Regions from separate parts of the Homo sapiens genome. Here regions 2 and 3 are each linked to region 1. Evidence: fine-mapped expression QTL. A gene starts in region 1. Each other region holds a variant in brackets. All regions are shown on one strand. Distances are from middle to middle.

Region 1 (8,188 bases):
TGTGCCACCACACCCGGCTAGTTTTTTTTTTTATTTTTAGTAGAGACAGGGTTTCACCATGTTGACCAGGCTGGTCTCGAACTCCTGACCTCAAGTGATCCACCCACCTTGGCCTCCCAAAGTTCTGGGACTACAGGCATGAGGCACCACACCTGGCCTATTTATTTTTTAAATAGAGAAAAGGTCTCCCTATGTTGCCCAGGCTGGTCTCAAACTCCTGAGTTCAAACGATCTTTGTGCCTTGGCCTCCCAAAGGGCTGGGATTACAAGTGTAAGCCATGGCACCTAGGCAAGTATCTAAACTTCTACATTACCCAAGAAATAGCTGTCATCCCAACACTCCACGGTGGATAGTAAAGCAAAAAAATTTAACAATTTGCCTACTTTAGTCTACTTCTAAATCATAAAATAGAAATGTCTTTTTTTTTTTTTTCTTTGCGATAGGGTCTCACTGTGTCACCCAGGCTGGGGTGCAGTGGTATGACCATAGCTCACTGTAACCTTGGACTCCTGGGCTCGAGTGATCTTCCCACCTTTTAATATATTTCATATTAAAATAGAAATGTCTTAAATAGAAAGTCTGTATAATATCCTCATCTACTAACCCAATGTATACACCTGCCATCCCTGACAAATCCAAGGAAGACATGTGAATTGCCTTTAACGCCTGTAATCCCAGCACTTTGGGAGGCCGAGGCGGGCGGATCACGAGGACAGGAGATCGAGACCATCCTGGCTAACACGGTGAAACTCCGTCTCTACTAAAAATACAAAAAATTAGCCGGGCGCTGTGGTGGCCGCCTGTAGTCCCAGCTACTCGGGAGGCTGAGGCAGGAGAATGGCGTGAACCCGGGAGGCGGAACTTGCAGTGGGCTGAGATCGTGCCACTGCACTCCAGCCTGGGCGAGAGTGAGACTCCGTCTCAATAAAAAAAAACAATAAAAAATAAAAAATGTTTTCAATTTACCCTCACCAACACCTGCACAGGACATTTTTAAAAAACAATAAAATCAATATGGTTCCTGCTATCTAAATCTTTTTTTTGTTTGTTTGTTTGAGATGGAGTCTCGCTCTGTCGCCCAGGCTGGAGTGCAATGGCACCATCTCGGCTCACTACAACCTCCGCCTCCCAGGTTCAAGCAATTCTCCTGCCTCAGTCTCCCAAGTAGCTGGGACCACAGGCGCACGCCACCATGCCTGGTTAATTTTTGTATTTTTATTAGAGATTGGCCAGGCTGGTCTCGAACTCCTCACCTCGTGATCTGCCTGCCTTGGCCTCCCAAAATTTGGGGATTACAGGCGTGAGCCCTGTGTCTGGCCTGCCACCTAAATCTTAACCAGGATATAAGTATACTTATTTCGAATGGCCAAGTGTCTGTTTTCTAATCCTTAAAATTACCAAAACATTTATTTATAAACATCAACAATAAATGGCACCACTTTATAGTTATTCAAACCAGAAGTCTGAGAGTAGAATTTCCATGTTTAGCAAATAAAAATATCATATGCCCAGTTACATTTGAATTTCAGATAAATAATATACTTTTAAAAATTTTAGTATAAGGGCCGGGCACGGTGGCTCACGCCTGTAATCCCAGCACTTTGGGAGGCCAAGGCGGGTGGGTGGATCACGAGGTCAGGAGATCGAGACCATCCTGGCTAACACGGTGAAACCCTGTCTCTACTAAAAATACAAAAAATTAGCCGGGCGTGGTGACAGGCGCCTGTAGTCCCAGCTACTTGGGAGGCTGAGGCAGGAGAATGGCGTGAACCCAGGAGGCGGAGCTTGCAGTGAGCCAAGATCACGCCACTGCACTCCAGCCTGGGCAACAGAGCGAGACTCTGTCTCAAAAAAATAAAAATAAAAAAAATTAGTATAAGTATATACCAAATATTGCATATACTATTGCATTTACTTATACTAAAAAAATTTTAGTATAAGTACATACCAAATATTGCATATACTATCGCAATTACTTATACTAAAAAATTATTCATTGTTTATCTGAAATTCGAACTTAACTGGGTGTGCTGTATTTTATCAGATAATCCTAGCTGGAATTCTTCCTTTATCACCTCTCACAGACAATACACCACACCAAGACCTGTCAATCACACGTCCTAAAAACATCTAGAATCCATCCACTTTCCTCCATTTATTCTGCCACCACCTTGGTTTAAACCACCAATGCAAGAATCTCCTAGTCAGTCTCTATGCTTCTGCTTTTGCAGGAATATCAAAGTACATCAACCTAACAATAAGAGAAATAAATGCTCATTTCAAGTTTCTTTTCTGGGGTCAATATTTGGTAGCTCTGGAAATCTAAAATCCCTTAATTAGCATGAGAGCCGCCAGTGAACTTACAATGAACAGGTTGAGGCCTCTCATGGGTAACCTCTGAAACAACCCCTCTTCAAGTTTTCCAAGAAAAGTAACAATTTTCCTGGGTATGCTGGAGCCAATGACGAATCCAATCCATTTGCTAATTTGTGTTTATTGATGCAAGGGGATAAACCCGGAAAAATCTGGGCAGAAATGGTAAATTTGGGGCTTAATAAAGTTGCCTTAAAATATTCCTCTGTTTCAGAATGAATTCTAAGATTTATAAAAGAGACTCCTTGATTCCAGTGCATACCTGATGTGAGACAGATTCCTGTCATTCAAATGCATATTCTATGCATTGAATGGAGTATGCCCATCAGCCCAGGTTGCAAAGCCATGGGGCAGAGCACTAAACAATTTGGGCACTCAGCAAGTTATAATTCAAATAAATATAAAACACATGGCGCCAACTTTTTCAGATGACTGATGCTCAGGAACAGTTGATGCCTCCTGACTGGATAGATAAATGTTTTGGTTGCCAAGAGCTAGAGTTCTCTCTGAACACTGCCAGCCTATCACGTTGTTGTCTAATCAATGAATTCTAACAAAGCAGCATATACATGGAAATGCAAGTACAGGTTTCAAGGTTTGTGTGACACCACGGAGCTGTATGAGCTAGCCAAATTGAACACAAATTACTTCATCGAAATAACAGCCAGAACCAAGGAAAAAACGTTTCCCTGTATATCAAAAAGGCCAATATGAGTATTGGCACGAATGACTCATATCATACAACATGATGCCAATTCAAGTGTGTCAAAGTTCTCACAATTTAAATATGAATGTTCACCCACTCAATACAGAGCACCAACAAGTCTTAATATTGTTGGTACTAAACAAAGAATCTCCACTCAAGCTCTTTCCACAAGAAAAATGCATTACAAATTCAGTCAGAAGGGCATCCCCAAGTGTGAGTTACATAGTTAGGGCTCAGTTATTTAATAAACAACCCTTTCTGTGACTAAAACCTAATCACATCACCAAAAACATTTTTGAAAGCCATATCTGAGATACGTTTTCTGTGTATCGTATCTTCTTCTCTACAGTAGAAAAATGACATTTCGTACTGTGGACACACTGGTTAGACCAACATTACAGATTAGAGAAAGATGAATGTCTGGATCAAAGGGGTCGAGTCAACCCTTATAAAACAAGTGTAGACAAATCTTGAAGTCTGCACTTGTATTCCCACGTGTAACCTGCTTTGCTGGTATTCACTGATGAGACAACGTGACAGGCTAGCAGCACTGGAAGATCTGTGGCTCTCACAATCAAAACAGTGTGTCTGTAAAATGATTCAGCCCCCCTTTCCTTTTGGCATCTGAGCTGCAGACCGAGCAAGTTGTTTCTGTCACCAAAAATGCCCTGGGAACTATACATAGAGCCGAAGTGAGCTTTCTTATGAGACTTCCCTTGGGGACAGGTCCAGCATATCTGAAAGGGAACTGCTGTGAGACCATTTTAGCTCAAGGGATCCCAAATCCTTACTGGGATGCTGGTGAGAATGAGTGCTCCGCTGCCGCACCGCGATTTCGACTGCAAAGCTTTCCAACACAAGGTCCACTGCGCGGGGAGCAAGTGTTTGGGAGGCAGGACCTTGGCTTTCCTCAGAATCAGGCCTTTCCGGCGGCCCCCCTCCCAGCCTTCCAGGGCATGGAGCTAGTCCTGTGTCTAAAGGAGTCGGCAGGAAAAAGGCGCGGCAATGCGAGTGGGTGGTCGCCGGCCTGCTCGGTGCCGCCCGGCGACCAACTCTGCGGCGCCGGCGCCGAGTGCCTGGACCCGATTAAGGGGAAGGATTAGAAAGGGGGTGCCCGCCGGGCAGCGTACTCACCCTCCCCTGCGAACGCCCGGGCTCGCGTGCCGGGATCCACGCCCGGACCCCGCGCGGCCTTCCGGGTGAGCTGCCCGCGGCCGCCGGGACCTGCACTGCCGGATAGCTCGGCATGCCTCGGCTCCGCGGTGGAATCTGGCCTGGCCCGTCATCCAGTTCCTGTCCCCGGCAGGCTCCGGCCCAGACCAGGCCCCCGGCCTCTCACCCCGACCTCAGGTTTCCGCCACAGCCCCCAGCCCAGGCCCTGGACACGCGTCCGGCCCCTGCCTCCGTGCCCGGCCCCCACGCCGCCTCCCGTCCCTCAGATCTCCGGCCGGCGTCCCCACGACCGGCCCCGACTAGGCCCCCGGCTGGGCCCTTCTTCAGCTGGGCGCGCACCTCTCCTTGGAGTAGAGCTGCAGCTGCTGCTCCTGCTGCTTCTTCCGGATAAACGCCATGGAGGGTAGGCGCGGGCGGGCGCAGAGCGCACAGGCAGGCCCCGCCGCCGCCTGCCGAGGAGGTCCGGAGGAGCCGGGGAGGGCGGGATTGGTGGCCGGCTGGGGAGCGCGCGGCTGCCGGCCTGGCTTCCCCTGCGGCGCCGCTGGGCGGCCGAGAGCCCGACGCGGCGTCCCGGCCGCGCTCACCGCAGCATCCTCGCGTGGGGACTCCGGCGGCACCGTGACTCAGGCCCGGAGGAGGGGCGCGCGGTGACACGAGGCGCCCCAAACTCAGGCCGCCTCAGAGGATCGCCAGGGCCAGCGGCCAGACCAGGATCCGACCTCACACACTAAACGTTTCACCACTTTACCAACCATTGCAGGCTGCGTTTTAAATATTTTACGCATAAAAAGGGATGCTGGCCCATAAACCACCAATCTGTTGGCCACAAAGACTTGAAATAACAACGTTTTGTGTCCTCCATTGTGAAAAAAAAAAAAAGACGGAAGTTAAAGGGGTGAAGGCAACTCAGTCGTAACTATTCCAAATACACCAGGAATAAGTGGAGATTTATAGCCAAGGAGCAAGGAGCAGGTGTTCGGAAAACTGCTAAGAGGAAACATCAATTCTGGGGGAAATTCTGGCTGAACCAACCTAACAGGAGTCCCAGTGAAGGCAGGCCAGGGGGTCAGATACTAAGGGTAGGAGTAAAGAATTTTGATCACATATGGAGGGTGGGGGATTCTTGCTAAACTGCCGTGGCAGTGTTACTTCCTAACACTGCATTTACAAGGAAGTGCACACAAGGACCTGGGAGAAGATTCAGAAGCCTAACTGAAGTTTGGCCAAGCAAAGAATCTTTAACACAGTCTCTTGATTGTTGAGATAATTGCTCGCATGATTTTTTTTTATATAACAGCTTTATTGGGATATAACTCACATACCAAACAAGTCAACCATTTAAAGTATACCATTCAGCGATTTTTAGTATATTTCCAGATATGTTCAACAATCACCACAATTTGAGAACATTTTCATCACATGTAAAAGAAACCCATACCCTCTAGCTGTCACTCTTCCTAACTCTACCCTCCAAACCCCAGCCCTAGCAAACAATAATCAATTTCCTGTCTCTATGGGTTTGCCTATTCTGGATATTTCATATAAATGGAGCCATACAATATGTGGCCTTTTGTGTCTGGCTTCTTTCATTTAGCGTAATGCTTTCAAGGTTCATCTATGTTGTAGCATGTATCTGTACAGTACTTCGTTCCTTTAGATTGCTGGAGCATATTCTGTTGCATTTTGTTTATCCATTCATCAGTTGATGGACATTTCAGTTGTTTCCACATTTTGGCTATTGTGAATAAGGCTGCTGTACACAGTCATGTACAGTTTTTTTATGGACCTATGTTTCCATTTCTGTTGAGTGGAATTGGAATCTAAGAGTGGAATTGCTGGATGTGGAGGCGAAAGCAGCTCCATCTTGGAAGCTAATCCTCCGTGTTGACTTCTGATTGACCCCAGTTCTGGGAAGGCCTCTAAGATTTCTACTTTATCTATTGTTCCTTGTGTAAGAGCAGGTATCTACCCAGTATGTTCTGTCCTTAATTCAAACAACTTGATGTTATTATACTTCAATTGTCCTACACATCCCTTCTGAACCACCCCTCCCCTATGGTATATAAGCCCTAAGGGGCTGGAGTGATGGCTCATGCCGGTAATCCCAATGCTTTTGGAAGTTGAAGCTGGAGGATTCCTTGAAGCCAGGAGTTCGAGACCAGCCTGGGCAACAAAGCAAGACCCTGTCTCTACAAAAAATAAAAAATAAAAATTACCTGGGTACAGTGGCACACACCTATAGTCCCAGCTACTGGAGAGGCTGAGGCAGGAGGATTGCTTGAAGCCAGGAGTTCGAGACCAGCCTGGGCAACAAAGCAAGACCCTGTCTCTACAAAAAATAAAAAATAAAAATTACCTGGGTGCAGTGGCACACACCTATAGTCCCAGCTACTGGAGAGGCTGAGGCAGGAGGATCACTTGAGTCCAGGAGTTTGAGGCTTCTGTGAGCCATGATCGTACCACTGCACCCCAACCTAGGCAATACAGAGAGAGAGAGACCTTATCTCAAAAGAAAAAAAAAAAAAAACATTGAGTCTGGGGGTTAATAGCACAGCAATCCACCATCTCATCTTGCTGCCCAAGACACAGATATGGACATGGCTTCTGTTCCTTAGTCGCTATTAAATGTTTCTTCCCAAGGAACTTTATTTGTCAGCCTCTTTCTTCCACCTCCCGGCATCCCAGGACTTTGAGATAGATTTGTATAGGCCTGCCCACCATGGAACTGGGTCATATGGTAACTCCATGTCTAAATGTTTGAGAGACTGCCAGACTGTTTTCCAAAGTGGCTGTACGATTTAACATGCCCACCAGCAGCGTAGAAGGGTTCCAGTTTCTCTACATCTTTACCAGTATTTATTATTACCTGACTTTTGTTTAGAGCTATTCTAGTGGTATGAGTGGTATCTCAGTGTGGTTATAACTTCTTAATATATGCTGAGAATGAGCCTCTGATTGTTTACCTTTGAGGGATTCTTGAATAACACGCCTCTAAGTTTCTTTTTCACGTTAAACAGGTAATGTGCCAAACTCGTAACAAGGTTCAAGGGCGGCACATCACACAGCTGCACATGAACACCCAATCATCACACTTATGAACTACAAAAGGATCCAAACCTCTAAATTGTATGCTTGTGGAAACATATCTCATACTGTCTTAAGGATCAGGTTTTGCAGGGTTACATTTTTAGAAGCTTCAAGGTAAATGTACATCTCAGCTTTCTCTAGTAAGTCGCAGGACTGTGAAGAGAAGGTAGGGAAACCAAGAATAAAAGTTGTGGCTGGGTCTTTTGAATTTGACCCCTAGCAGCACTGGACAAAATGCTATGTATACTGAGCACACCCATTAAAAATTTTGGGAATGAATGAAGGTGCCTGGGTACCCTTTGACTGTGACTGAGTCCCTTCCACGTGTCCAAGTGCAGTGCAGAACCTGTAACACATTAGGTCAACATTCCTGGAGGAAATTGTGATGCTGTCTGGTAGCCAAGAAATAAATACATGAGCAGGTACACAATGAAATAAGATAATAAAATTTGTCAAAAGGTACATGATAAATTTCTTTATGAGAAGTACTACAAAAGGTTCTGTGAGTTCAGAGGAGAGATTAATTTGGCTGGAATAAGGAAAAAACAACAACAAAAACCCAGAATGTAAGTTATCTTCTTGAAGTTAAACATTAGAGGAAGATTAGATGTGATCGAATAGGCAGAGACTGTTAAAGAATCTCCTTAACCCAACTCTAGCCAAATTCCTCTGAGCCCACTTCTCAACTAGGCCTCAACCTTGGCCTATAAAAACCAGACTCCCAGCACGAATAATTTAGTCCAGTCCCCATCCCCCACATTAAAAGACTTAAACAAACAAACATAATTTCTAACAGCTTGAGGCCACATCCCTAGCATAACCCAGCCCCACTTAATGTACCTGTCTGA
Region 2 (8,188 bases), 22 kb before region 1:
ACAGGGCTTTAAAAAGTCTCTAGAAACTTCCAGCTCCCCAGTATGTCTTGCTAGCCTCTGCCTCCTCTCTGAAACCCAGATGGATGCATCCAAATGCCTGCTGGACGTCTCCCCTTGGAGTTCTCATGGCCATCTTAAATCTCACATCCTACTTGAAGCCTGCTCCTTCCCAACTCTCTTTATCACTATAAAGGGCACTACTGTCTATCTCATTGGAGTCATTCTTGACTGTTCCCTTTTATACCCTGCGACCAATCCGTCAGCACATCTGTTGGGTTTTCTTCAGAATATACCTAGACAATGACCACCTCTCACCATCGTGGTTCAATACACTTGGATTCCTGGAACACCCCAATAGGTCTCCTTGCTTCCACTCTTGCCCTGGTTTGTACAGCGTGTTCTCTACCCAGCCCCCAGAGAGACTTACATACAAATCAGACACACCCCTTCTCTTTCAGCTCTCCAGTGGCATTTCTCTCTGCGCTTTATTCTAAGTCCTTACCTTGGCCCACAAGGCCCCGCATGACACGGTCCCTGCCCCTATTCCAGCCTCCCTTGAGTGTTCTCCTTGACTCACGCACCCCAGGAGCACTCACACTCCTGTGCCTCCCACCTGTCAAGGACATGCCCACCTTCAGGCTTCTCCCCCACCACTCTCTGTACCTGGAATACCAGTGTTTGTGATAATTGCACAGCTCAATGCCTTAAGCCTTCTGAGTCTCTTGGTAAGTGGCCTCTTCTCAGTGAGGCATCCCTGACTACTCTTTCTAAAGCAGCATGAGAACATTCCTTATCATTTTCTATCCTTCTGTCTTGCTTTCATTTTCTTCATAGCATTTGTTACCACCTGACATTAGAGGAGACATTTGTTTATTGTCTGTCTCCCCCACTGAAAAGTAAAGTCCATGGAGCAAAAGGCTTCAGATATCTTGTTCTTCCCTAGATTGCCAGAGCCCTGAATATAATACTTATTGAATCCATGAGTCGAATCTGTTATTCATATAAACATGCACACACCCTTCTTTAGCAGCAACAAAAAAATTGGAAGCAAAGCTCTCTAAATATAAAGCACCGTACTATATTTCTGAGATCTTGTGACCTAGTATATATTCAAAAAACCCAAAAGTTGCCTGGTTGTATACTTGACACAGGAAGCTTTAAATAATGCTTGAAAGAGTAGCTTGTGTCGGGCTGGTTTTGAGCTGGTTTCATACAAGACCTCTTCTATAAACTATTAAAAAAGTAGGTGGAGGAATTTGGGGGCTTTATTCCTAAGCTCAAAGTTATTAAATTTTTACTAAAATAACTAAAATGTATAGTTTTATAATGAAAACCCTATCTTCAAGTCAAAAAGTACCTCTTCCTTTCAAGATATGGGCTTTGTGGAACCAGGTCATGAAGTAAAATGACACGATAGACATGAGAGTATGGAGGTGGACCAGAATTATTAATAACGATGTTTGGTCCCCAGAGCAGTAGATGGTTGTCACTGTCTTCACATATACCAGTTAAAACAACATGAAGTTGAGGAAGCCTGTGAAATGTTTTCTTCCTTAAAATTAATAGAATCATGGAAGGTAGATGTAGAAAATCAAATCATCTGCTACCTCTCAGCTTTCATAAAATAACTTTCAACACATGTTAAAAGTGTTCTGTGAACAAAAGGCTTCAGTGATAGAAAAAGTGCTGGGAGCATGCTCTTCCCCTCCCCATCTGCCTCCTAGGGACACTCTGGTCTGTTGCATGAGAGGATTTAAGTCAAGTTTTGAAGTCAGCAAGTCCGTGCATCTTTGTTCCCACAGCTTTTCTTATCCCTTATTCATCCCAGAACAATTCTTCTCTGAACACTTCAACACCCCAAGGAACGAGAGCTGTCAAGGCAACATCTGCTAACCCTTTCGCTTTAAAGATGAAGCAGATGAAACCCAGAGCCAAAAGAAAGTAGTCCCTTCTTATTTACAATTTTTTAAATCTACATACTAATTAATAATATGACAGGAGAAAAAGCATGTTTTAATTGACCTTTTATTGCCAATGCTGTCATGCCTATATTGAGTGCAGTGGTGGGTGCATAAATATAAAGGGAATAAATCTGGAATGAACAAAAGGTTATTACCACAAGGGTCATAATGATACAAGACCACCAATCCCAAGTCATTGCCTTGGTTGTCCTAAGTCCCTGAGATCATTTAAGTGGCATGGCAATGGACTCTCACCTTCTAAATAGCTAGGAAGCTACGGGAAGAGCTGCATCCCTTCATTTCAAGCCTCGTAAATCATAAATCGTGAGAGCTCCAAGGACAAAACCGCAAGCCCACAGATATCACACACTTAATAAACATGAAGAAGCTCATTAGGGATCACATCTTTTTAAAACTATATTTCTCAATGACTGAATTCTAAAAGCATTTGATTTCTATTCCATGGTCTTCATCTGATATCTCTACAAGTAATTTCATTCATGCACATATATAAGAATGTTCATTCAGATTAGGAAAAAATATTTATTATGTGCTTACCTGACTGAAAATGAGTGAAATACCCCCAGATTTTGCCCTAAAATACAGATAAAAGTCATTAAATATATACAGCTTTTTGGTTGAAGTAAAATTAAACAGTGGTGAAAATGACATACTTTGTGAAGTGTCTATTGGCTCCATTTTCTCCATGCTTTCCTATTTTTATACAGTCTCTCAAAGGAATCTGGATAAAATTGAGAGAAATATTATAAAAATCAAGAAAGGTAAGACATACACAAAAAATAGGAATGTTTCTGTTCATATTTAAAATGTATTTACCTTGATGATGGGCTGGGATATTGAATCTGGTTCAAAAATCACCGATTTTGAACATATTTTTAAGGAGCCTCTGATTTTCCTAGGGATCCAAGTACAACAGATTGTTTGATGAGCATAACAAAAATCACAAGATAATCATAGTACATTTTAACTAGAAAGCAGGTTACTAAAGCATCACATAATAAAAGATCAATAATGCATATAAAGAGAACGTCTCTATTTTTAAATTAACTGGTAAAACAAAACACAGAATAGTGGTTCATATTGGCATTTACAATTCAAATGTTAGAAAGTTTTTAATTAAACTTCTTTGGTTTATATGTGTATCTCCATATAGTTTACAGCATCTATTGGCTAGAAACTTAATGAATCCAGAAACATCACACTGAGAAATAGTCTTACAGACTGAGAATGCCTACACTCATCCCACCCCAGAGTAACACTGCCTGTTCTTTTGTGAGCAGTAAATATTTACTTTGGCTTTCTATTCTCAGTGCTCAATATACATGTACTGAATAGATGAGAAGGCCCATTCTACTGAAGGTTATGATTTAGTTTGCAATTCTTTCTCAAAGGGTTTTTGAAATTTTATACCATTTCATATCATTTTTCCAAGTTGTTAACTGCATTTACTTTTCTAATACCCAAAATTACCCAATAGTAACATAAAAACTTTTATGAAATTTCTAAACATATACAAATAGAATAGAAAACTCCCATGTACCAATGGCCTAGCTCTACAATTGTCAATATGTGGTCACTCTTGTCTTGTGTATAACCCCCTGGGACCCTGCTGAATAACACAGAAAATTATTGACATCATATACTTTATCCACAAATATTTTAGCAAAAATCTCTGAAGACAGCCTCTCTTAATAAGTGACCAATCATTAACACACTCTAAGAAATTAATAATTCTTTAATGTCATCATGTATACAGCCAGTGTTCAAAGAATACTTTCAGAGGTAGTACACGGGTACTGCCTTCACATCCAGAGGCACCCAGAGGATCAGGTGATGTCAATCTCCATATAGCCATTACAAAATTTCCCAGCAGCTTCTCTCACCTAAAGGTTTTAGCAGCTATTGAAAATTACTATCTAGATCAAGGGCTGGTAAACTTTCTGTAAAGAGCCAGATAGTAAATATCTTTGCTTTGTGGGCCATATGGTCTCAGTCACAACCATTCAACTTTGCTGTTATAGGGAAAGCAGCCACACACAGTATGTACACAAATGGGAATGCCTGTGTTCCAGTAAAACTTTACAAGAACAAGTGGCAGCTCAGATATGGCCCAAGGGCTGTAGTTTGCCAAGCCCTGCTGTGAATCCATTCTTCCATTAGGCATTGAAATTTTATCATTCCTTCTATGTTATGAGCTAGAATTTGACAAAAAAGAACAACTTTACTTATCAGCAATTTGGCTACCCTGAAGTACAATTTGTACAAGGAAAATAACAAAAATGCTTGATTCTTTACCTTTATTTATCAAGTGTTACAAAAATGAGTTGTTGTCTTCCTATCCTTCGAGGATAACTGATTAAGATTATACACACACACACACACACACACACCCACACACAAACACACATATTTATAAAATTACGTACTCATGAATTTTAACATTTATGAAACATTTCAATCCATTGCAGAAGTTATTCTTTTCTGATGCTTACATTGTCGCATTTTTGGCCCAATGTCAGCATCGTCTACTTGCCCCTGCATCCTTTTAATTCATTTACAGTAGTCTTTGATACCTTCCTTA[C/T]TTGCCAGTATGACAGGATGTCCCAGGTTCATCTCACAGATTTCCTGCCTCTGACTTAGAATCAGCAATTTCTCCAAAGAACCCCCATCCTTTCAGTGGGAAGTGGTATTAAGAGACCAGATTCTTGGTGCTGATTGCAACTGAGTTATTTCTAGGCCTTTTCAAAAGATAGAGGTAAGAAATACTGTCATTTAAAGAGAAAAGCAACACAAAGGTGCCCACTCTTACCACTACTATTCAACATAGTACTGGAAATCCTAGCCAGAGCAATTTGGCAAGTAAAAGAAAGAACAGGCATCCAAATTGGAAAAGTTAAACTGTCTCTGTTAGCAAATAACATGATTTTATATGTATACAAAAACCCTAAGGATTCTATCAAAAAAACTATTCAAACCAATAAACAAATTCAGTAAAACTGAAGAATACAAAATCAATATACAAAAAACAGCGTTGCATTTCTATATGCTAACAATGATCTATCCAAAAAAGAAATTACAGAAACAATTCAATTTATAAAAGCACCAAAGGAAAAACAAAACACTTAGGAATAAATTTAACCAAGGAGGTAAAAAGTCTGTACACTGAAAACTACAAAACACTGATGAAAGAAACTGAAGTAGACACAAATAAATAGAAAGATATCTGGTGTTCACAGACTGGAAGAATTAATACTGCTAAAATGTCCATATTTTCCAAAGCAATCTACAAATTAAAAGCAAACCCTATTAAAATCCCAATGGCATTTTTAACAGAAACAGAAAAAAAGAAATTAACATTGATATTGACCCACAAAATAAACAAAACACCCAAAACAATCTGTTTTGTTTCATTTTAAGAAATGGGATCTCACTATGTCACCCAGGCTAGAGTTCAGTAGCATGATTATAGCTCACTGCAGCCTCAAAATGGGCTCAATCAATCCTCCTGCTTCAGCTTTCCAAGTAGCTGTGACTCCAGGTGTGCACCACCATGCCCAGCTAATTTTTAGTTTTTTTAGAGATGGGGTCTTGCTAGGTTGCTCAGGCTGGTCTCCAACTCCTGGTCTCAAGTGATCCTCCCTCCTCAGCCTCCTGAGTAGCTGGCATTACAGGTGCAAGCCACCATGCCTGGTCCAGAGTAATCTTGAACAAGAAGAACAAAACTGGTGGCATCAAACTACCTGGTTTCAAAATATACTACAAAGCTACATTAATCAAAACAGCATGATACAGCTGTACAGACCAATGGAACACAATACATCCACATATATGCAGTCAACTAATCATCCACAAAGGTGCCAAAAACACACAATGAAGAAAGGATAGTTTATTTAATAAATGGTGTTGGGAAAACTAGATATCCCCGTGGAAAAAAAAAAGTGAACCCTTACCTCATCCCATACATAAAAATCTACTTGAAATGAACTGAAGACTTAAATGTAAGTCCTGAAATTGTAAAACTGCTGAAAGAAAAAATACAGAAAAGCTTCTCGGCATTGGTCTGGGCAGTATTTTGGATGACTCCAAAAGCACAGGCAATATAAGCAAAAATAGACAAATGGGATTACATAAAACAAAAAGCTTCTGTGCATCAAGAAAAATAATTAACAAAGTCAAAAGACAACCTACGGAATGGGAGAAAATAGTTGAAAACCATACTTCTGATAAGGGGCTAATATCCAAAATACATAAAAAACTCGAACAACTTGATAGTATAATAAGAAAACAAATAGCCTATTAAAAGACAGGCAGAGGACCTGAATAGACATATCTCAAAAGAAGACATACAAATGGGTGGGTGTGGTGGCTCACGCCTGTAATCCCAGCACTTTCGGAGGCCGAGGCGGGTGGTTCACAAGATCAGGAGATCGACACCATCCTGGCTAACACGGTGAAACCCCGTCTCTAATAAAAATACAAAAAAATTAGCCAGAAATGGTGGCACGTGCTGTACGCCCAGCTACTTGGGAGACTAAGGCAGGAGAATCGCTTGAACCCGGAAGGCAGAGGTTGCAGTGAGCAGAGATCACGCCACTGCACTTCAGCCTAGGTGACAGAGTGAGACTCCGTCTCAATAAAAAAAAAAAAAGAAGAAGAAGAAGAAGAAGAAGACATACAAATGGCCAACAAGCATATGAAAAGATCCTCAGCAGCCTTAATCATCAGAGAAAAGCAAATCAAAACCACATTAAGCTATTGCTTCACACCTGTTAGGATGGCTATTATCAAAAAACAAAAGATAACAGTTGTTGGCAAGAGCGTGGAGAAAAGAGAACCCTTATATACTGCTGGTGGGAATATGAATTGGTTTAGCCATTAAAGAAAACAGTACAGAGGTTTCTCAAAAAACTAAAAATAGAACTACCATACTATCCAGCAATCCCACTTCTGGGTATACATCCAAAGCAAATGGAGCCAGTATGTTGAAGATGTATCTGTACTCCCATGTTCATTACAGTATTATTTACAGTAGCCAAGATTTGGGATCAATCTAAGTGTCCATTGATAGATTAATGAATAAAGAAAATATGATATATATATGAATATAAAACATATAAAAATAGACATACATACATACACACAATGGAATATTATTCAGCCTCAAAAAAGGAAATCCTGCTACTTGTGGCCATGTGGATGGACTTGGAGGACATTATGCTAAGTAAAATAAGCCAGCCACAGAAGGACAAATACTACATGATTTCACGTAGACTCTAAAAGAGTTTAATTCAAAGAAGAGACAAGAATGGAACTTACGAAAATTTTTTAGGTGGGAAAGCTCAGAGCTTTGTTCAGGCAAGAGTAAGTTAAACTTCACGAAATTAAAGGGGGTGGAAGAAATGGGGAGATGCTGGGCAAAGTGCACAAGTTGTCCATTATCCAGGATAAGTTCTGCAGATTTAATGTAGAGTTATTGACTACAGTCCATACCACATCATACACTTGAAATTGGCTCAGAGAGTAGATCTTATATGTTCTTATTCCCACACACACAAAAGAAGGTAACTGTGAGGTGATGGATATGATAATTACTTTGATTGTGGTCAGCATTTCACAATGTGTATGTATATCAAAACATCAAATTGTATACCCTAAATATATACAATTTTTATTCATCAATTATATCTCAATAAAGCTGGAAAAAAGGAGGAAAGTGCATGAAAAAGGCTTTATTTCTTTAATATTACATGTATGTCTCTTTTCTTTTATACTGGAAAATCTGAGTCTTGGCCATACTTATTAAATTGTTTTATCCAATTATATAAATACATATACATGCATGTATAAAATAGTTTCAAAATAATAATACTAATAGTATACTAATAACAACAATATTGCAACTGGAAAAGTTTACAATTACTTTACATTCTTTTTCAACTTCTTTGCAATACTTTTTCATCTTACCAGAGATACACAGTCAAATTATTATATTGTAAAGTTGATTAAAATAATTTTCTGTGGCTAACTCCAACTTTATAATTAAATTCATTTGTTTCTTGTCTTTTCTTTTTTTAATATATAATTGTAATAAATAGAAACAGAGTTTCGCTATGTTGATCAGGCTGGTCTCAAACTCCTGGCCACAAGAGATCGTACTGTACTGCCTTGGCTTACTAAAGTGCTGGGATTACGAGTGTGAACCACCA
Region 3 (8,178 bases), 90 kb before region 1:
CAAACACAGTAACATGCATTCTACTTATAGGTGAAATAAAGCAAGATAGCTAAATAGCAGATATATTTGTTCATTTTTACACTTCATAAACCTTTTTTTAGTTTTATTAATTGCAGACTGAAAAGTTTACAGAAAAATTAGCAATTTTTTTTTTCATTTCACTGTGAATTAATAGGCATGAGATTTTTTTAATTCGACTTACACTTTTTACATTTCTGGTTAAAATTTAATTATATGTAACATATTTGAGTTGACAAAATATACTCCAATTTTGTAGATATTCATAGTTTTGTATAAAATTGGTATATTTTTCTTTTGGATCTTTAGGTATGACCACTCTTTAATTCTATGTCTCTTAACTGAAGTTAAAATTACAGAAATAGTGGCGTACATGCTGCTTTTAGAAGAGCAGTCATGTAAGAGCACAGGGAAAGTGTAGTGATTTCTTTCCTTTGAGAGATGAGCAGCAGACATTTCACTTGTTCATTCTCTAAATGACTGTGTAGAGATTGCAGTATTTCTAATTGCATTGAGTTGAAAATTTTTATACTCCTTTGTATAAGTATTAGCTTTGAAGACAAATGCTTCTGCTTAAGAACAAAGTGAGGAATTGGGACCAATTCTGGCTAATTGGGAAATTTTTGGTAATTATTTTAATTGGGGGTAATTTGTAGTATATGATGAATTTGTTTACGGTTAGCTTTCAACTTGATCTCTTATCAATTTAGAATTTCTTCAGCCGTTGTTTATTGTTTTAATTTGACAAGATAAACGAAAACTCCTTACCCTGAAGATCATTTTATTGGGTCCCTGTCTTCAATTTACTAGAAAGTGAGATATTCAATTTACTTACTGATAATTGAATTATGAACAATTATTTTCTATCATAGATCCAGTATGGATATTAAAATGAGGTTTGTAAAATCTCTAAAATCTACAGTTCAGCTGCCAAGGCTTTGATGCCTCAAAGTTTCAAGTGGCCTATTCAGTCATCTTTTACATGTTCCTATCACTTCTTTAGTATTTTGTCAGTATTTTCTTCATGTGGTTTTTATTTCCACATAGTTCATCTAAACAAGCACTTTTCTTTTTAAAAGGCCTTTATCTGAAATATTTAGCTTTCCAGAATAACTGCTTAGCCATTAATATGACATCAATACATTAACTGATAAGGATTTTTAGATGGACCTGTAAGAATGACTAATCTGTTCTTTGTTTTCATCCTTTTTTTGTTAGCTTTTTATGGAATTGAATGTAAATTCACCATAGTCAGATATGAGCTGAGGCTTTTGGTTTTGAAAACAGCAGCAGCAGAAGAGTTGATATTGACAAATATTGGAATGAAAAATAAAGAGGGCTACAATCTGTATCATGCTGCCCTCTTTAAGCAGAAGTGAATTACATAGATATTTACATTAAAGAACGTTTTATGTTCAGAGCAGAAAGCAGCTGGGAGATAGAACAGTGAATAAGGAGTGGGAAACATGGTTCTTTTATTACCCCTGAATTTAAAAATATTCCTAATTTAGCCATTAAACTCTTTGGCTGTTTTTGTTTTGTTTTGTTTTGTTTTTTTGCATCATTTTCTAAGGTGGATGATACTCATGTTTGTTTTTATTCTTAAGATTCTCCTGAAACGGTATTATGAAGGAAGGTAGTATTCATTTTCTCATCTGCTGGCCTTTAACACCACAGCAAAGCTAAATTACAGCAATGAACCAACCATTCATATTTTGTAAACTATTCTGCAGTAGCCACTAGGCTGTGGCTTTTAGCATCATACAGTCCCTAGACCTTTTTCTCTCCATTCCAAATCCTGACAAGAGCCTGTGGTTTCCTCTACTTATGCAAAGTAAGCTTTTAATAAATAATGATATACAGAACCAGAGCTTATCAGTTTCCTAATATGGTGGGCAGAATTTGGCAGCAGTGACGCTACAAGCATGTTTTTTCCACATCCTTTCTGTTAATGGCAGAAACAATAGGCCCTGGCATGCTCCTTGGGGCACCCCAACCCCTTTTTTTAGTAGTGTCACATTTCAAAGTAAGTTTGAAATAAGTAGCTACATTTAATGGTTTACAGTACTTAAAATTGGGTTACATCCTTTTGTTTCATTTTTACTGCAAATAACATAATTAAATTTAACTTTGCAGGGAGCTTTCTATATGTATTCTTCAGTATTCCTTGGATTAAAAACAATAGCAATGAAAGAACAGAAATTCATAACTACATACAAAGGAGAAGTATTTTAAATTAATAAGCTGTGTTTTAGAGCAATTTTAGATTCACAACAAAATTGATCAGAAAGTACAGTATACCTTCTGTCCTCACACATGCACAACCTCCCCCAGTATCAGCATCTGCACCAGAGCAGTACATCTGGCTCATTAATATCACCTGAAGTCTACATATTTACATTACATCACATTAGGGTTCACTGTTGGTGTTATATGTTCTGTGGATTTTGACAAATGTATAGTGACGTGTATATAGTCATGTGTTGCTTAAAGACGGATATGTTCTGAGAAATGCCTCATTAGACAGTTTTGTCGTGCAAACATTATAGAGTGTACTTCCACAAATGTAGATGGCATAGCCTACTACACATCTAGGCAGTATGGTATAGTCTGTTGTTCCTATGCTACAAACCTGTATGATCCCACCTGTATGATACAGTAATACTGCATGTTACTGTACTGAATACTGTAGGCAATTGTTACACAATAGTATTTGTGTATCTAAACACAGAAAAGGTATGGTAAAAATACAATGTAAAAGATTTAAAATGGTACATCTGTATAAGGCACTTACCATGAATGGAGCTTCCAGGACTAGAAGTTGCGCTGGGTAAGTCAGTGAGTGAGCGGTGAGTGAATGTGAGGCCTAGGACATTATTGTATACTGCTGTAGACTTTATCAATACTCTATACTTGGGCTGCACTAAATTTATTTAAAAATTTTTCTTTCTCGAATTATAAATTAACCTTAGCTTCCTGTAACTTTAATTTTTTAACTTTCTGACTCTTGTAATAACATAGTTTAAAACACAAACATTGTACAGCTGTATAAAATATTTTCTTTCTTTATATCCTGATTCTATAAGCTTTTTTCCTATTTTTTAAATTTTTAGTTTTTAAAAATCGCTTGTAAGTTTGTTAAAAACTGAGACACACACTCACATTAGCCTAGGCCTGCACAGGGTCAGGATCATCAATATCACTGTCTTCCACCTCCACATCATCCCACTGAAAGGTCTTCAGAGGCAGTAACATGCATGGAGTTGTCATTTCCAATGGTAATAGTGCCTTCTGGAATACCTCCTGAAGGACCTGCCTGAGACTGTTTTACAGTTAACTTTTTTTGTAAGTAGAAGGATATACTCTAAAGGGTATAACACAGGAAATACATAAATGAGTAACATAGTCATTTATTATTATCAAGTATTATGTACCATGCATAATTGTAGATGCTATACTTTTTTATATATGACTGGCAGTGCAGTAAGCTTATTTACACCACCATCACCACAAAGTAATGAGTTGTTCTGTGTGACGGCAGCTATGATGTCACTAGACAGTAGGAATTTTTTAGCTCTTTTATAATCTCATGGGACCACTATTGTATATGTGGTTCATCATTGACCAGAACAGGCAGCACATGACTGTATACCATTGTAGCATTAGACAGAATAGGTTCACTGCTCGAAAAATTCTTTAATGCCTGTTCTTCCTTCCCTTCTAGAAACTCCTGGCAACCAATAATTTGCTTTTGCTTTTGTGTTTTCTTTAGCGTCAGGATGTCGCTCTGTTGCCCAGGCTGGAGTACAGTGGCACAGTCATGGTTCACTGCAGCGTCCATCCTCCTGCCACAGCCTTCTAAGTAGCTGGGACTACAGGCATGCACCACCACACCTAGCTAGTTTAAAAAGAAAATTTTTTTTTCCCCCAAAACGGAGTCTGGCTCTGTCACCAGGCTGGAGTGCAGTGGTGCGATCTTGGCTCACTGCAACCTCCTCCTCCTGGGTTCAAGCAATTCTCCCTGCCTCAGCCTCCCGGGTAGCTGGAATTAACAGGCATCCACCACCATGCCCGGCTAATTTTTGTATGTTTACTAGAGACAGGGTTTTGCCATGTTGGCCATGACAAACATGACAACATGCCATGTTGGTCAGTTGAACTCCTGACTTCAGGTGATCTGCCCACCTCAGCCTACCAAAGTGCT[G/T]GGATTACAGGCATGAGCCACTGTGCCTGGCCAAAACAATTTTTTGCATAGGCAGGGTTTTCCTATGTTGCCCAGGCTGGTCTTGAACTCCAGGCCTCAAGCAACTCTCCAGCTTCAGCTTCCCAAAGTGCTGGGATTAAAGGCCTCAGCCACTGTGCCTGGCCTAATATTTTATTATCTCCACAATTTTGCATTTTTCAAAATGTCGTATAGTTGGAATCATAAAGTATGTAGCCTTTTGAGATTGGCTTCTTTCACTTAGTAATATCCACTTAAGTTTCCTCCATGTCTTTTCATGTCTTTATAGTTCTTTTTTTTTTCCCAGTGCCGCACAGTATTTTTTTTGTTAGACATGATTCAAGAAGTAATATAACAAGCCACTAGCTCCTTTTAGCTAATCGGTGGTGAAAGAACTTTCAAAGTTCAACACATGTTCAATTTGTGGATTGTTATTTATAATTATAAAGATTTTCATGCTGTATTTTGTTTAAATCTAGAATGTTTAACAAATTATGAAATAATAAATATTAAAGGATGACTCAACAAGTATATCAGAACATATAATTTTAGTACCATTCAAAGCTTTCATAGGCTTTACTTATTTAAACTAAGCTTTCATATCTCCAAGCATCTTTGGGAATACTCTTGACATTGATTTTAGGGCTAGGTTGAGATACTACTATGAACTTCATTTTTAAAATGATACATTTCCAATAAAGTAAAAAGTTGGTAGAGATTGGTCATACAACTTATTACCAAACTTGTCTCTAATGACATATAGCTATTTCAGAAAGTCAGATCTAATTGTAAAGGATAAAGTATTTCCATCAGTGAGATACTTCATATGATGTAGGCCATCAAGACAGCCCTGAGAAGAGGATACTTGAGCATGAGTAGCATTGATAAATGCTAGAGTGTCAGAGTGTGTCAGAGTGATTTTGGCAAGTTTGTTTAACAGTTACAAATTACATTACCTTGTCATCATCGATTTATGTCAGTGATAAACTGTGCTATTTTCATAATTTCTGATATTTTAAAAGTATTTAGCATAAACCCCTTCCTATACTTGCTGCAATGAAGATAAAGATGATTTCAGTGGGACATGCTTAGTATTAATTTTTTAGGTGTTTTTCTGATATGTGACTTTTATATGAATATGGGTAAGGTTTTTTCTTATGCAAATAAAATATTTTTACTTGGACTAATTAGTAAAAGAATAATGAAAATGTAAAATTTATTCATTTTAGAATGCACTTTGAAAATATTAATTTATTGTGGCAGCACTATGAAGTGCTGGTTATAAGACATGTAGAATGGTACTTCTACAATTTTTTTGTGATAGCCTTAAAAGTATTTAGAATATCAAATATAGTTTTGATTTGCAGATTTCCTTTGGAAAATGTATTGCTGATGTGTTTGAAATTAAACTTTCTTACATAAATCTTCATTGTTTTAGTTTCTTTTTGGAAGTACTGGATTTAGCTTATAAATTATATAAGAATATAAAGTAAGTATAGCATATTGTTAGAATTTTCTTCTTTTCTTTTTCAGGCTCAAACTGCTTTTTCTGCAAACCCTGCCAATCCAGCAATTTTGTCAGAAGCTTCTGCTCCTATCCCTCACGATGGAAGTAGGTTTATACTTTGAGTTCATTCTCTGTGAACAGAAATATTGTTATCTTCTTTTGCTCATATAAGGAATCCAAGATTTTTTTTTGGACAGGCTGCATAAAATTGGTAGTTAAGCTCAAATAGTTATGAATAAGAAAAAAAAGTTTACTTCAAAAAATAACCCTTTTTCTAATTAAGATAGTGAACTGTGGATATGGGGATGTATTTCATGGCTTAATGAAAATTAATTTTAGACTGACTTGTAAATCCCTAACGTGGCTGATTCATTTATGAATGAATTATATATATGAATTCACATATGAGAACTATATGAATTCACATTTAAGAACTATCATGCTGCTGCTGTTGAACTTTCTGAATTGTCTTCTGTCTTTCCTATGGGAGCTTCTGAAATTTCCAACCACCTCCTCTTTGGGAAGCCTCCTAAATCTTAAGGCCTTTATTCATTCTCTGTATCCTGTCTTTGGTCCCTTTTTCTTCAAGGTTCAGAGGGATTCAGGACAGAGCTCCTAAATACTATGACTTAAGATACAAAATAAGTGTTAAATAAGTTTTTGTGGCCTGTCATTTTGTCTTACAACAGTTTATAACATTGTGCCTCATAGAAAATTCATTTTAAGTCACAGATAATTTAAGTCTCATGTAAAAAAGAGCTTTTGGAAATAGTATATAACTACTAATAAGTGAAATAATGTTAATATTTAAAAATACCATTTCCAGGATTTCATTGGAATGTGGTTAAAATTATTAAAATGATAAGACACTAAATAAATTTACAAGCTTCCAAAAAAAATTGTTCATAAGAATCATTCCATATCCCTGTTTACAGAATGAGTTATAAAGTAGCTGACTTGACAAATAGATATTTTGGTCAGTTGTTCTGAATTGGAGAATCAGTGGCATTCTTACTAAATTCCTAATCAAGTAAGTTTATTTTAAGAAACAGGAAAGGCAAGATAGTTTATTTGGAAAAGTTATTTCTACTTTTGAGTGTTTAGGAATCTCTGGTTGTTTCAGTTCAGATGTCTTCATATTTTACGAATTTTAAACATTTTCTGTATTTTCCATTTCTCATTATTACAGAGATGGGGAGATGCCTTTCCAAATTGCTACTTTAAATTCATTCTAGATTTTATAACTTAAGTGTAATTTTGTTAATACGCAGAAGCCCATAATGAGAGAAGTTTTCATTTTGTGTATTCTGTAAGTGCTTTTTAATTTATTCATTTACTTTTTAGATCTCTATCCCAGACTGTATCCAGAGCTCTCTCAATACATGGGGCTGAGTTTAAATGAAGAAGAAATACGTGCAAATGTGGCCGTGGTTTCTGGTGCACCACTTCAGGGGGTATGTATAGTGTAATTAATTTTGATTTATATAAAATCATACTTTACATGTTAGTATAAGCTTTCCTCTTTGTGGCTAACTCACAGATATACTACTAGCATTGAACCTCACTTCTCAGAAATTTTAGACTTCCTTTTGGATATCATTTCTTATATAGTCTACTTCATTTTGTGCTACACTGTTTTGAGTTTATTAGGACTTAGATTCAGATACCTTTTACTAGTTCGTTCTCCTTTGTCTTCTGCATTTAGTCAGTTACTAAGTCCTATTGATTCTGTTTCTGTTTCTTGTATTCATTTTATCTGTTTTTTATCCATTCTAGTCCTACTATAACCATATTCAGGGTTTCTATACTTCTAGCCTTCATTATTATAGTACTCTCTTAAATTTCCTCTAGTAACTTATTTCAGACAGTACTAAGCCGCTGCTAAGTTAATCATTCTGAAATACACATATAGGTCTATCATATCTTTGTTGCTCATAATCTTTTTTTTTTTTTTTTTTTTTTTTGAGGCATAGTCTCACTTTGTCACCCAGGCTGGAGTGCAATGGCGTGATCTCGGCCCACTGCAACCTCCGCCTCTTGGGTTCAAGCAATTCTCCTGCCTCAGCCTCCCAAGTAGCTGAGACTACAAGCGCGCGCCACCATGCCTGGCTAATTTTTTGTATTTTTAGTAGAGACCGGGTTTCACCATGTTGGCCACGCTGGTCTCGAACACCTGACCTCAGGTGATCCACCTGCCTCGACCTCCCAGAGTGCTGGGATTACAGGCATGAGCCACTGTGCCTGGCCTTTGCTCTTAATCTTTTAACATTCTTTTTGAAATTCAAAGCTCCATGTAATTAGACTCCAGAGTCTAGCTTAATTATAATGGGTCTGATAACCTTTTATTAAGGTTATTGCTATGACCATAGCACTTTGTACCACTTATTATAATTGTAGTTAAATCTGTGTCTGTCTTGTTGCCATATCCCAA

What was found. PIP is the estimated chance that this variant, and not a neighbour inherited with it, causes the effect. A credible set is the group of variants that fine-mapping cannot tell apart.
Region 2: its variant is the best candidate, but not a certain one, in a credible set for the expression of NSMAF in cerebellar hemisphere (GTEx, PIP 0.67).
Region 3: its variant is the best candidate, but not a certain one, in a credible set for the expression of NSMAF in blood mononuclear cells (TOPMed, PIP 0.56).

What each region holds. Positions count from the first base shown.
Region 1 is chr8:58,654,981-58,663,168 of GRCh38, forward strand. It overlaps NSMAF (neutral sphingomyelinase activation associated factor), which reads right to left and starts at 4,873. Exons shown (of 31, transcript NM_003580.4): 1 at 4,593-4,873. The coding sequence starts at 4,651. LOC124902083 (small nucleolar RNA U13) reads right to left here and starts at 7,364; the gene lies at 7,261-7,364. RefSeq lists enhancers at 3,313-3,876, 3,411-3,700, 3,877-4,439 and silencers at 4,151-4,600, 4,611-4,950.
Region 2 is chr8:58,632,670-58,640,857 of GRCh38, forward strand. It overlaps NSMAF (neutral sphingomyelinase activation associated factor), which reads right to left. Exons shown (of 31, transcript NM_003580.4): 3 at 2,799-2,877; 4 at 2,636-2,703; 5 at 2,520-2,556. Among named protein-coding and RNA genes, the nearest start is that of NSMAF, 23 kb to the right of the region's middle. The variant C/T (reference allele first, on the strand shown) is at 4,564.
Region 3 is chr8:58,565,114-58,573,291 of GRCh38, forward strand. SDCBP (syndecan binding protein) reads left to right here. Exons shown (of 9, transcript NM_005625.4): 3 at 5,774-5,852; 4 at 7,092-7,201. Among named protein-coding and RNA genes, the nearest start is that of SDCBP, 16 kb to the left of the region's middle. The variant G/T (reference allele first, on the strand shown) is at 4,223.